Linked DNA regions of Homo sapiens. The protein of the gene in region 2 purifies or fractionates together with the protein of the main gene of each other region. This does not show direct contact. Each region holds a gene or a part of one and is shown on either strand. Other genes may lie near its edges. The genes, in order: ARPC1A and ARPC4.

Region 1 (8,019 bases), on a different chromosome or scaffold from region 2:
TGTCCCTTCCCACACACCTTGTACTTGTCCATCAGTAACTGAAACATCTTTTGTTATAATATTTGGTCTTAGCTCCCAGTTCCTCACACAGGAGCTTTTAAGACCTTTGCAATCTCTGGAGTGATAAGTGTGTCTCTCTATGCTAATGAAATGACTGGTGGATGAGGGTGCTAGATGGCTCCAGAATGATTTTATTAAAATAATCTAAGCTTGCATAACATGGAAAAATGTGTCGGTAACAAAATGTCTAAGTGGCTCTGGCCTTGAGGAGATTTACAGGTTCATGGGTTACAGATTTCACTTATTAAATTAGGTAAGTAACACAGGGAATTCCCAAGTCTGCTTGTATGATTGTCTTACAAGTATGGTATTTGCGATAATATGCTATTTATACACACCACCTGAGACTACCCTGTGCCCCTAGACATCCCGTGACTGGTCCCATCTCTGTCCTATGGAAATGAACTGAGTGAGCAGTGGAAAAATCCACATGCACTTTTCAGTTCACCTGTATTGAACTCTACAAAATCCTTTCCATAGGAAGTTTTCCTCACTGGGAACATACCCAGCAATTAGGACAATATCTAAAGCATAAGGATTATTGTTAACTAATAACACACAATATGCATTAATAGTTTTGTCCTTTTGTTTGTTTATAGCTTTTATTGGCATTGATTCAGTATTTCCAACAGTTTTTTTGGTGACTAGATGGCAGGCATTATTGGAAGATCTGCAGTAATTGTTCACCATTTCAGCTGTTGGCACAACAAGCAAGAAACAATCTTCTTACTCTCCAACTCCACATTCCAGTTATTAAATCAAGCTCTCCTGAGAAGGAAATCCTTACGCCTTTACAAACATGTAACCTTCCTAAACTATGATGGATTATGTTCCTGATGTGTCTATATAAGCCCCACCTTCCATTCTCAACTAGCAGTAACCTCTGTGTCCTTTGACATCCAAATTGTTTTCTTTCATTCATTTGCACTTTCATTCAACGAATGTTAACCAGGACCTTCCAGATTCAAGGTATTGTGCATTTCCTTTTATTTAAAATTATTTTAGCAGCATCCCTGGTCTAAAAATAAGATAAAATATTTTGTGGACTGGTCATATCCTAATCTCTAAGTTACTTGAGAACAGAAGGATCTTACTCTACTCTTATTAACACAATAGTTGGCACTTGGTGAGTATTTATTAAATATTTGATGCCTTGAATCTTGACCAAATTCTAATTCAACTCAATTCCAATTCCAATCCAATCAGCAAAGCAAACAAAATCAGCCCACGGTAGTGTCCAACCCCTCCCTCTCTTCCATTGCCCACTTCTAAGTACCACCTTCCCTGGCACTAATTGTTAAGTCTAATTAGGGAAAAGGAGTCAGGATGGTGGGAGCAGGGGGAAGCAAAAAGAAGCAGGTAAACTACAAGTCTGCCATTCTTTATGGTCCAGACACACAGCCCTCCTCTGCAAATAACTCACAATCTTCCTGCGCCCAACAATTACAGCATAAACACTATTCCATAAAATCCCCAGCAAGCCTTTCTTTGCAGTTGGCTGCTCTTCTGCTGATTCTGCCTGTTGCCTTCTCGTACCTTCCTACTTTCTCTAACAAATCTGCCTTTATCTACAACTGTCTTGGTAAATCCTTTTACCCACGTACCACCAGCCCAGACAGCTGCCCCTCACCCATGATACTAATCTTTTAAAAGGTTGAGTCTGCATTTTGGATACTACATCACACATGCCTTAAAAACAAACATTAAAAGTAACTCACCCTCCTTAGAACCCTGATGGTTGGCTTTTATAGCAGGGCACGATGGTATAACCAGTAAGGCCAGAGCAGGTGGCCAGCCCCCCAACCCTCCCTGCCTTGTATCAAAACCCTCAGGTTTCAGGCCAGGCTTGGTGGCTCATGCCTGTAATCCCAGCACTTTAGGAGGCCAAGGTGTGTGGATCACTTGAGGCCAAGAGTTCAAAACCAGCCTGGCCAACATGGCAAAATCCCATCTTTACTAAAAATACAATAATTAGCTAGGTGTGGTGGCACGCGCCTGTAATCCCAGCTACTCAGGAGGCTGAGGCATGAGAAACGGTTGAACCAGGGAGGTGGAGGTTGCAGTGAGCTGAGATCACGCCACTGCACTCCAGCCTCGGTGACAGAGCCAGACACTGTCGCATAACAAAACAAAACAAAAAAATTCCTCAAGTGTCAAAATTTTTCTTTTTCTTCAATTACAGAAGAGCCCCGCTTAGAGCTAAGATTCTACCATCTGGAATGACTCATAAAATATGAAGTGGGCCGGGTGTGGTGGCTCACGCCTGTAATCCCAGCACTTTGGGAGGCCGAGGCGGGAGGATCATGAGGTCAGGAGTTCGAGACGAGCCTGACCAACATGGTGAAACCTTGTCTCTACTAAAAATACAAAAATCAGCTGTGCATGGTGGCGTGTGCCTGTAATCCCAGCTACTCAGGAGCCTGAGGCAGGAGAATCGCTTGAACCTGGGAGGCAGAGGTTGCAGTGAGCCAAGATCGCACTATTGCACTCCAGCCTGGGTGACAGAGTGAGACTCCATCTCAAAAAAAAAAAAAAAAAGTGAAATGCATCAAATGGTAAGCTTTGGTTAGGCTAAATTGCAAAATACTATTTCAAATCAGAACCAGAGATTAATAATAGTAAATATCTGTTATTTTTTTCTGGGGCTAACATTTCTTGTCACTTATCATAAAGTCTGGTATTAATTTGCATGTGTTACTCTCATCTACCCAGATTATAAATTCCATCAAAGCAGTAAGTGTTCCTTGTAAAGAGGTGGGATCTTCATAAACTCCTCTACATACTTGGGAATTGGTTCAAGTAACTTGCAGACACACAAGGAATCCCTGCTTTCCACACCTGCTGTCCTCCCTTTCCCAAGCTGTCTCTTGGAGGGGGTAATGAATTTACAATGATCTTTCTACACTATCTGCTCGATTACCCTATGACCAAAGACTTTGTAACCACAGGTCAGAGTTAAAATCAGAATTTCAGTGAAGCGATGTTCCATGAACAGCTGGATTCACTAACTCAGTGGTCCCCAATCTTTTTGGCAGCAGTGACCGGTTTCATGGAAGACAATTTTTCCACGGAAAAGGGGGCAGGGGCTAGGGGAGAGGGGTGGGGTGGTTTTAGATCATCAGGCATTAGATTCTCATAATGAGCATGCAACCTAGATCCCTCGCATATGCAGTTCACAATAGGGTTCACTTTCCTATGAGACTCTAATGCCCCCACTGATTGGACAGGAGGCAGAGCTCAGGCCGTAATGCCAGAGATGGGGAGCGGCTGTAAATACAGATGACACTTCGTTGGCTCGCCCTGCTCACCTCATGTGCCAATGGGTTCCTAACAGGCAACAGACCAACACCCGTCAGCAGCCAAGGAGTTGGGGAACTCTGCACTAACTCCAAAGAACATAGCGGGTCTGGCAGGGCATGGTGGCTCACGCCTGTAACCCTAGCACTTTGGGAGGCTGAGGCAGGCGGGATCACCTGAAGTCAGGAGTTCGACACCAGCGTCGCCAACATTGCAAAACCCCGTCTATACTAAAAATACAAAAATTAGCCGGGCATGGTGGCGCGCAGCTGTAGTCCCAGCTACTCGGGAGGCTGAGGCAGGAGAATCGCTTGAACCCGGGAGGCGGAGGTTACAGTGAGCCGAGATCGCGCCACTGCACTCCAGCTTGGGCGACAGAGAAAGGCTCCGTCTCAAAAAGATCACAGCGGGTCTGAAATTGAGAGTTTGACAAGTATACCTACATAAACCTCACCTTACAATACCAAAGGGAAGGAGACAAGCCCTTGGTTGGCCTGGCATGGCGCTGGGCGGCGGCGGGGGGGAGCTCACATCGCTTTGGGAAGCAGAGGCTAGAGGATTGCTTGAGCCCAGGGGTTCAAGACCAGCCTGGACAACATAGGAAAACCTCATCTTTACAAAAAATATAAAAATTAGCCAGGCACAGTGGCTCACACCTGTAATCTGAGGGCTTTGAGAGGCCAAAGAGGGACGATCGCTTGAGCCCAGGAGTTCAAGACCAGCCTAAGCAACACAGCAAGACCCTGTCTCTACCAAAAAATAAAAATTAGCCAGGCGTGGTGGTGTGCACTTGTAGTCCCAGCTCCACGGGGGGCTGAGGCGGGAGGATCGCTTGAGCCCAGGGGTTCCAGGCTGCAGTTAGCTATGATCGCGCCACTGCACTCCAGCCTGGGCTACAGGTTGAGAACCTGTCTAAAAAAAAAGAAAAAAGAAAAGCTCTCGATTAGCCCCATCTGTGGGGGCTGGGGATGCTCCAGAATTTCTAGGGTTCAAGGGCAGCAGCCTGATTGCAGGTGGGGATCAGGGCATTTCTTGGAGGCTGCATCTGCGGGGCAGGCTCTGTCCTCTGTGAATTGGGGGCCTTGCCAAGTTCCCCCAACCCTTTTATCCCTGCTGCGCCATCTTGGGAGCAGGGAACTGCTTGGGAGCAGGGGATTCTGTCCCAGGAAGGGTCGAGAAAGTTCCTGGGGGGCTTCAGGGGCTTTCCACAGAGGGAGCACGGCGGGGGCGGAGGCTCCCTGCAGGGAGCAGCGCTGAGGTAGACTGGCTCTGACCTTGGCTCTCTGAAGGGAGAAAAACTTAATCGTTCTTCAGGTCCAAGAGCTCCAAAGACCCCCAATCCTCAGTAACTCATCTCCTGACAAAAGACCTTGCGAAACTGCCAAAGCGCCACACTTCGGCTCGCGATTGTGAGGAAATTGGTTGAGGAACGGAGTGGGACGCCCATGCCGCTTCGCCAGCACTTGCCAGGCGTTCCGTGGGGCAGCATCTCCTCTGAAGGGCCGCCGACAGTACCACGCCAATGGAACGGCGTACCCTCCTCCACTGCAGCCTGCCTAACCCCGGACTGCGCGCCCGAGCTGTGCGCATGCGCGGACCGTCCGCGCGGTCGCAACGCGCAGGCGCCGTGTCCACTTCCGGGATCTGTCAGCCGCTCCCTCTGGGCTTCCGTCCTCCGCCCGCGCCCGACGGAGCCTGTTCGCGTCGACTGCCCAGAGTCCGCGAATCCTCCGCTCCGAGCCCGTCCGGACTCCCCCGATCCCAGGTAACGGCCAGCAGGGGCGAGCGTCTCACCCTGTCGGCCTCTCTTGTCCAGGCCTGGCGCCGGACTTGCCGCGGGGGCAGTGAGACGGGGGCTCAGGCCGCGGGGCCCCGAGGCTGAGGCGCGGCCGGGTCTCCCTGCCGGGGCCTCCTGAGGGGGCGGGGATCCCCTTTCTCCGTGGATCCCCTGCAGCTTTTCTCAGGATGTTCGAGCTCCTAGCCGCCTCCGATGCCCGAATTAACGGCCCCTTCTGCGCCCCCAGGGTCCTACTTGCACCTCTGCTGGGGGCATTTGTCACCGTCTCTAAAATTGTGTCAAGTAGGAGGATCTCCCGTAATCGAGCGACCCGCGGGACTATTCATCTCTTTAGTGTCTAGAGTCGATCCCTGCATACAGTAGGCGCCCATAGGATGTTTGCCTGCTCTCTAGGGCAGCCCTCAATCCTTCGGTTAATGGGGAACCTTCTCGATCTCGAGAAAAACCTTCTCCCGAGTTCTTTTAAGATTTCCCTGCATGAGTACCGCCTTCCCCCAAGTCAAAATTGCACCCTTCTCGGCGCTCTTATTCATTTAGTGGAATCTTTTATGCCAGTCCTGGCACCACCACTTTGTTGAGTGATCCTGGGAAGATGCTTCTCTGCGCCTGTTTCCTCATCTGCAATAAAAAGATTCTTACCGTTTTGCTAAGAATCAAGTGAGCTTATTTGCATAAATTGCTTAGAATAGTTCCTGGCCGAGAGTAGGTGATCAATAAATATTAGCTATTATTACTGCTTCTGGGCATTCTATGCATATCCGTCTTCCTTTCCTTTTCTATCTCCTCCACTCTCCCCAAACACCAACCCTCCAGACTTGAAGACCAGAATGGTGTCAGCCTTATTTATGTTTCTAGCCCCATCCCGGTATTTACAACACTGCTGGGAACATGATAGGCACTTAATCAGTTATAGCTTAGAATCTTTGATTATAAAGCCATCTGTTCTCCTGCAGCTTTGGAACCTTCTGTCTATGTCAACTCGTAGCTTAAATTGCCGAGATTATCTTAGTTCTGCCCTCTCTCCTCAATTTTATCTAGTCTTGTGGTTTCACATAGGGCCTGGGTTTTCAGGTATCTAAAAACAGAGGAGGGGCATCAGTCAGGAAGGTGTTTTTGTCCTGTTAGGGAGTGGGTAACTGTGGTTGTTGTCTTCCTTTTTTTTTTTTTTCCTGCAGCCTCGACCTCCTGGGCTTAACAGATCCTCCCACCTCAGCCTCCTGAGTAGCTGGGACTACAGGCGTGTGCCACCACACTGGGCTAATTTTCATTTATTTTTATTTACTTATTTTTGGAGATAGAGTCTCACTCTGTCACCCAGACTGGAGTGCAGTGGTGTGATCTTGGCTCACTGCAACCTCCACCTCCTGGGTTCAAGCGATTCTCCTGCCTCAGCCTCCCGAGTAGCTGTGACTACAGGCATGAGCCACTGCGCCTGGCTAATTTTTTTTTTTTTTTTGTATTTTTTGTAAAGACAGGGTCTCCATATGTGGCCCAAGCTGGTCTGGAGCTCCTAAGCTCAAGCTATCCTCCCACCTCGACCTCCCAAAGTGCTGGGATTTTGGGTGTGAGACACCACACCCAGCTTATATGGCTATTTTCTCCCACAAAGTATTCAGAGATCTTCTGGAGTTCATCTGTTAATCACAGTTAAAGGAAGGGACCATTTCGGAAAACTCCTATTTTGGACGCGGAGTGGTGATACTTTGATCTAGTTGTCTCATCCAATGCTGAAACAAATCCTATATAAAGAAGTTTAAAATGGTCTGCTGGTGAGGCTGGTGCCTGGACTGGAGCCTGTCTGAATGTTGAGGAGGGTGTGGTGACCTTGTTGGAGTACTTGATGTTGCTAGATTGGCTAATGAGAGTGATTAGGAACTAGGTGAATCACGGTCTTGAAAACTGACCCTAAACAGGGGACAGAAATGCCCACTTTTGTGGGCATTTTCAAGCTCCAAAGGAGTAGGGCCAAGAATTTATAGCATATGTCAACGTTTCCAAGCTCAGAGGAAACTAACTGGTGGGTTCTATGGTTGGTTTAAAAGCCTTGAGTTGGCCAGGTGCAGTGGCTCACGCCTGTAATCCCAACACTTTGAGAGGCTGAGGCGGGTGGATCACCAAGGTCAGGAGTTTGAGACCAGCCTGACCAACATGGAGAAACCCCGTCTCTACTAAAAATACAAAATTAGCCAGGCATGGTGGCACGTGCCTGTAATCCCAGCTACTCAGGAGGCTGAGGCTGGAGAATCGCTTGAACCCGGGAGACGGAGGTTGCGGTGAGCTGAGATCACACCATTTCACTCCAGCCTAGGCAACAAGAGCAAAACTCCATTTAAAAAATAGAAAAGCCTTGGGTCAAAGGGAGAAAGGGAACCTGCTGGCATGTATTTCAGGCTAGGCTCTGTACTACTTGCTTTCACATGTCTCATTTAATTCTCCTTGTGATCTCAGTGGTATATCCACTTTACAGAAGAAAAAAATGAGATTTAGAGATATCAAGTGACTTGCCCAGGGTTTCATAGCTAGTGTGTGTCAAAAGCCAGGGTTCAAACCCAGCCTCGGCTTCAGAGCCCATGGCTAGCCATACATCAGAATGACTCTGTACTCAGTGATAGATAAAGAAAAGGGGTGGGGGCCGGGCATGGTGGCTCATGCTTGCAATCTTAACACTTTGGGAGGCTGAAGTGGGCAGATCACTTGAGCCCAGGAGTTTGAGACCAGCCTGGACAACATAGGGAGACCCCTGTCTTTACAAAAAACTAAAAAATTAGCAGGGCATAGTGATGCATGCCTGTGGTCCCAGCTACTCAGGAGGCTAAAGTGGGAGGATGGCTTGACCCTGGGAAGCCGAGGTTGCAGTGAACTGA
Region 2 (4,761 bases):
AACTGAGACACAAAATAGAAGTAACTTAGCCAAATCTGGCAAGAAGAATCAGGACTCAAACACAAGGGTCTTTTGTCTTTTTACTTCAAGGTGTTACTAAGGTCTAGTACTATCCAATGGAACTTTCTGCAATGATGGGAATCTCTATGTATGTGTTGTATATGCTGTATGTCTATATATGCTGTTATATATGGTACAGTCACTGGTAGCTGTTAAGTTGCCAGTGGGACTGGGGAACTGGATTTTAAACTTTATTTAATTGTAATAATTAAAATTTAAATAGCCACTTGTGGATGGTGATTACTGTTTTGGCACAGGCAAAAGTCTACTCTCTTGCTCACTGGCTAGATTTGGGGCAAGCTATTACATCTCATGTTTGGAACCTCAGTTTCCTTATCCACCAAATGGGAGCACTGTTTCTCTGAGGTTACTTTTTAGCCCAAGTAAGTTCCTTATGTGAAAAGCACCAAAGCTCTGTATAGGCAGACAGAGCAGTTTCAGAAATTAATGGTGCCTGGACTGCAATGAATGGAGTCTCTGGGTTGGGACCCCTGGCAGGAATAATGGCAGGACCAATCATGAGACTGCACCCAGTGGGGAGCTCCAGGCACAATTACCAGCCATCTGGTCTCAGGGAAAAGAAGCCCCACCTCCCCTCCTTTCACACACACACACAGCATAGACCTCATGCAGCCCCAAAGGGGCAAAAAGAGACTTTAATTAGGGGAGGGAGGATCCACCAGAATCAGAAAAGGGACAGCTAGCGTGGGAGCAGAGGAGCCAGAACAGGCAGGAGGAGGGCCCGGCCAGGAAGCTCTGGAGGACTCACCTCGCCACCTCTGGCACAGGCACTGGCACTGACGGACAAGGCGAAACAGCGGCCCCTCTCAACTGGGAGGGCACCCAATGGCCCCTGTAGCCAGAGGTTGCCCGGCTTTTGGGCCCCAGGTCCTAGGCATGACTGGTGGTCACCAATTTGGCCCTTGTCCCCAACCAGTGCTGGGGGGCCATCTTTAGGCAGAACTCAGGAAGCTGGCAGAGAGTTCCCAACACTTATACTGGGGCCAAGGAGGCTTGGGAATAAAAGGGCAAGGGAGAAACTGGAGTCTGAAACCTCCCTCCCTCCCCACCTGGGGTGGCATAGGAGAGAAAAAATAAGTCGCCTTCTGGCTCCAGGCCCGCCCAGACCCACAGCAACCAATAACGTATAATCACTGGGACCAGTCACAGCCACTGGAGGTGGAGGTTTAAAAAAAAAAAAAAAAAAAAAGACAAAAAGGTTACAGTATCCTACAAGCACAGAGTTTAAGTTTCAAGACGTTAAAAAAAATCTGTCCCGGCCCAGGGGACTGAACATCAGAAGCCAGCCTGACCAGGCACGTGTGGCCTTGGGGCAGGTCCACTGCTGCTTTCTTGCCCAGCTAGCAAGCACACCACCCACCTCCCGCATCAAATGCCCACCCCAACCCAACTCCCTGCCGCCGCCGCGCTGCTCGGGGAGTGACTCCAGGACGCCTTCGTGGAGACATGGGTAGTCTGAGGGGGAAGGCCACGAGATCCAGCCAGATGGTTTAAAACTGTCAAGAGAACCAAGAGGCAGTGCATGGTGGTTATTATTGCATCCTGGTGGCACTGCTCTAAGGAGGTGCATGAACCTGAGAGCTGCCACTGTGCTCATATCTGTGAGGGGCAGAGTTGGGTCCCAGGACACCTTGTGGTCATGCTCTAATTCAGCCAGCTTTCAGAAGTGACCTATGGGCACCGGCCCTAAGCCTAGCACTAGATAAGGCAGAAAAATTAAGAGCCATGAGAGCTTCTCCACAGCTCCCTTGTGCCCTGGCATGGAGGCTGCTAGAAAGCCCTGCCAGCGTCCTGCCTGGTGAACTGAGGTTGCTTTCTTTAGGCATGGGGGCTCTCATGCAAGGGGCCTGGGGACTCAGAGGGCCAAGTGGAAAAGGACCCAGGTTCTGGTACTTTTGTGTCAAGCTCTGGATGAACCTCCAACCAAGCCAGGCCCTTGAAATGTTTTCTGCCCTCAAGGGTCCCCCATGCTGCCTAGGACAGCCCTGCACATTTTAGAGACCAAAGGTTGTGAACCAATGGCCCATGCCTGAAACTAGCCCAAAGATGAGCACTGCATGGCCCACATGGTGTTTAAAACAATATGAATTAGTTGCCAACCTTGAAAACATGGAAGATGCCATATACAAATCCAAATTTGGGGGTTCAATGGCCTGGAGCTGTGTGGGAGCCAGCCCCTGCACATGAGGCATGCGCTCAGCAGCTCCTCACCCTGCCCACTCCATACTCAGCCCACTCCATAGCTACCCGACCTTTGGATGCACCTGAATTTGTGACCCTTGACAAAGGCTATGGTACTTTCTTAGACCTCTGAGTCCGAAAACCCAGCTCCACATTCTGGTTCCTCCTCTTACTGGCTGAGGGACTTTGGACAGGTGCTTTTACTTCTAAAGCCCCAGTTTATTAATCTCTAACATGGCGATAATAGCTGACTCAAAGACTGTTTTGAGTAATAAATGGGACATGTGAACATACTTTTTTAGGGGTCCAATTCTGTGCGATATAATTATCATAAATAAGTAAATGATTGTTGAGTGAGTGAGCCAAATATTCAATTGGAACAAGAGCTATTTTCCCCTTCCAGTTCAATCTAGAGGCCTCCTAATATCCTGGCCATAAAATTTTGGTGGTGCAATACACGGAAAGCTTACTATGTACCAGGTGCTACGTTTTACACACATGGTCTCATTTAATGCTCAACCACTGAAAGATAAGTATTAATTACCAGACCTTCATTTCACAGCTGAGGAAACTGAGACTTAGTTGAGAGTTCAGTGACATGCCTGAGTAGGCGGTGGAGCCTGGATTCCCACACAGGTGGGTTGCCTCCATAGCCGAGTGAGCTGAACAGCCATGCCGACCTGTGCACCCACCACAGCTACTCTGTACACTGGCCACCCTCAGTATAATTAAATCCCAAGGGAAGCGGGTATAATTTCCATTTTTAGGAATCTGAGCTCCTTCTGGACTGGGTATGTACTTACTGGTGGGAGTACACACTAAGTCTACCGTCTAGAGATCACAGCCACTCTGGGTGGCACATGTCAACAAACCAAAGATTGCTTGGAAAAAGGAGAAAAAAAAAGGCATGTTCTGAATATCTAAACAACTAAGAACGATGTCACCAGTTCATCAATGTAAACAATTCTACCTCTTCAGATGACTAAAGTGCTTTCAATTAGAAAGACATAAACAACGTAAGAGGAATCTGGAGGACTTACGCCATGCAAGTGATGGAAAACAGGTTGAAGGAATCATGATTTAAGCCTGAGAAACATGCTGAAGGAAAGTACTGAAGTCTATTTGAGAAGTGGAATCATAACATGATTAATTGTCCTATACTCCTAGAAAATTCACATGCAGACTTCACTTACCTCACTTGGGGTTTAAACGAGATAGAGGCAAGGACTTTGTGAACATCCTGAGATGTAGAAATGAGTGACCAAGTTCCTACGAGAGACTAAGAGCCACCCCAGACACCCAAATATAGAAAATGCCTTGTAGCTCTCAGAGATGAACTTGGGGTCCTCTAGCTCCAAAGCACCTGACTGACCTGCTGTGCCCCAGGGGTCCTAGAGAGCTCAGGAGATATAAACACACTGCTTGGACCCCTTTCCCACCAGATGCTAAGTTCTCAACATGACCCCCAGATCCTCTGGCCTCTGGAAGGAAAGCTAAAGGCCCCTACTCACATTCTTAAGGAACTCTTCAGCCACAATGCGGGCACGGGCATTGACTGACAGCTTCATCTCACTGATCTCCTTGTCAATCTCCTCCATGAAGTGGATCACAAAGTCCACCAACTTGTGTTTGTACATCTGCTCTGTGTGGAAGTTGGTGATCAGAAAGCTGATATCATACCCCTAGGGAAGAAGACAGTAGGGAGGGGGAAGAGAAGGAACAGGAGAGAATTAGCACCCCATGGGAACTGAGCTGGTCATGTCCTCCACTCATCCACATGCTTCCCACTGGCTGTGATCTTCTCCCAAGCTACATACCCTTCCAGTCAGCAGCCCAGCTGCTCTGGGGGAGGGTGTCTAGGTTGGATCCAAGCAACTGAACCCCGTTGAGAATTCTGTGTGTATCAGACATCTCTGGAAAACTATCTGTGGCACAACAGCTCTGCATTCAGAATGAGTCAAGGAACTTGAAGTCTTGTTACAGAATAATCTAATCAAACAACAGGGAACATTTAGTCCAGAGAAGAGATGATGTGGAAGATGGGTGGGATTAAGGGTCTTTTTCTGCTGGAGGGCTGTGGGAGGAAGATCAATTTTATTTATTCCGGGTGGCCCCAGAGGTTAGATCTAGGACCAGGAGAGAAAATTTGGCTCAGAATGAGGAAGAACTTGGCTAACACGCCTGACGTGTCTGATGATGGCACATGCTGCTGTGTGGTAGTTGCTTAGTCACTGGGGATATTTTAAGTTTACCTGGCAAGGAGTCTGTGGAGAAGATTCAAGTACAAATTCAGGCAACAACTGACCCAATGTTAACTGTGGCTTTAAGAGACTGATTCAGTGGGCCGGGCGCGGTGGCTCACGCCTGTAATCCCAACACTTTGGGAGGCCGAGGTGGGCGGATCACAAGGTCAGGAGATCAAGACCATCCTGGCTAACACAGTGAAACCCCGTCTCTACTAAAAATACAAAAAATTAGCCGGGAATGGTGGCGGGCACC

The links.
Region 1: the proteins of ARPC4 (region 2) and ARPC1A fractionate together in Homo sapiens (co-fractionation; 7 studies listed by BioGRID and IntAct, with this or other methods). This does not show direct contact.

What each region holds. Positions count from the first base shown.
Region 1 is NC_000007.14:99,320,883-99,328,901, forward strand, and holds the start of ARPC1A (actin-related protein 2/3 complex subunit 1A), read left to right. Parts: upstream 1-5,015; 5' UTR 5,016-5,122; intron 5,123-8,019. UniProt on the Homo sapiens protein: Probably functions as a component of the Arp2/3 complex which is involved in regulation of actin polymerization and together with an activating nucleation-promoting factor (NPF) mediates the formation of branched actin networks.
Region 2 is NC_000003.12:9,803,026-9,807,786, reverse strand, and holds the end of ARPC4 (actin-related protein 2/3 complex subunit 4), read right to left. Parts: intron 3,945-4,761; coding exon 3,774-3,944; intron 1,578-3,773; coding exon 1,572-1,577; 3' UTR 686-1,571; downstream 1-685. UniProt on the Homo sapiens protein: Actin-binding component of the Arp2/3 complex, a multiprotein complex that mediates actin polymerization upon stimulation by nucleation-promoting factor (NPF).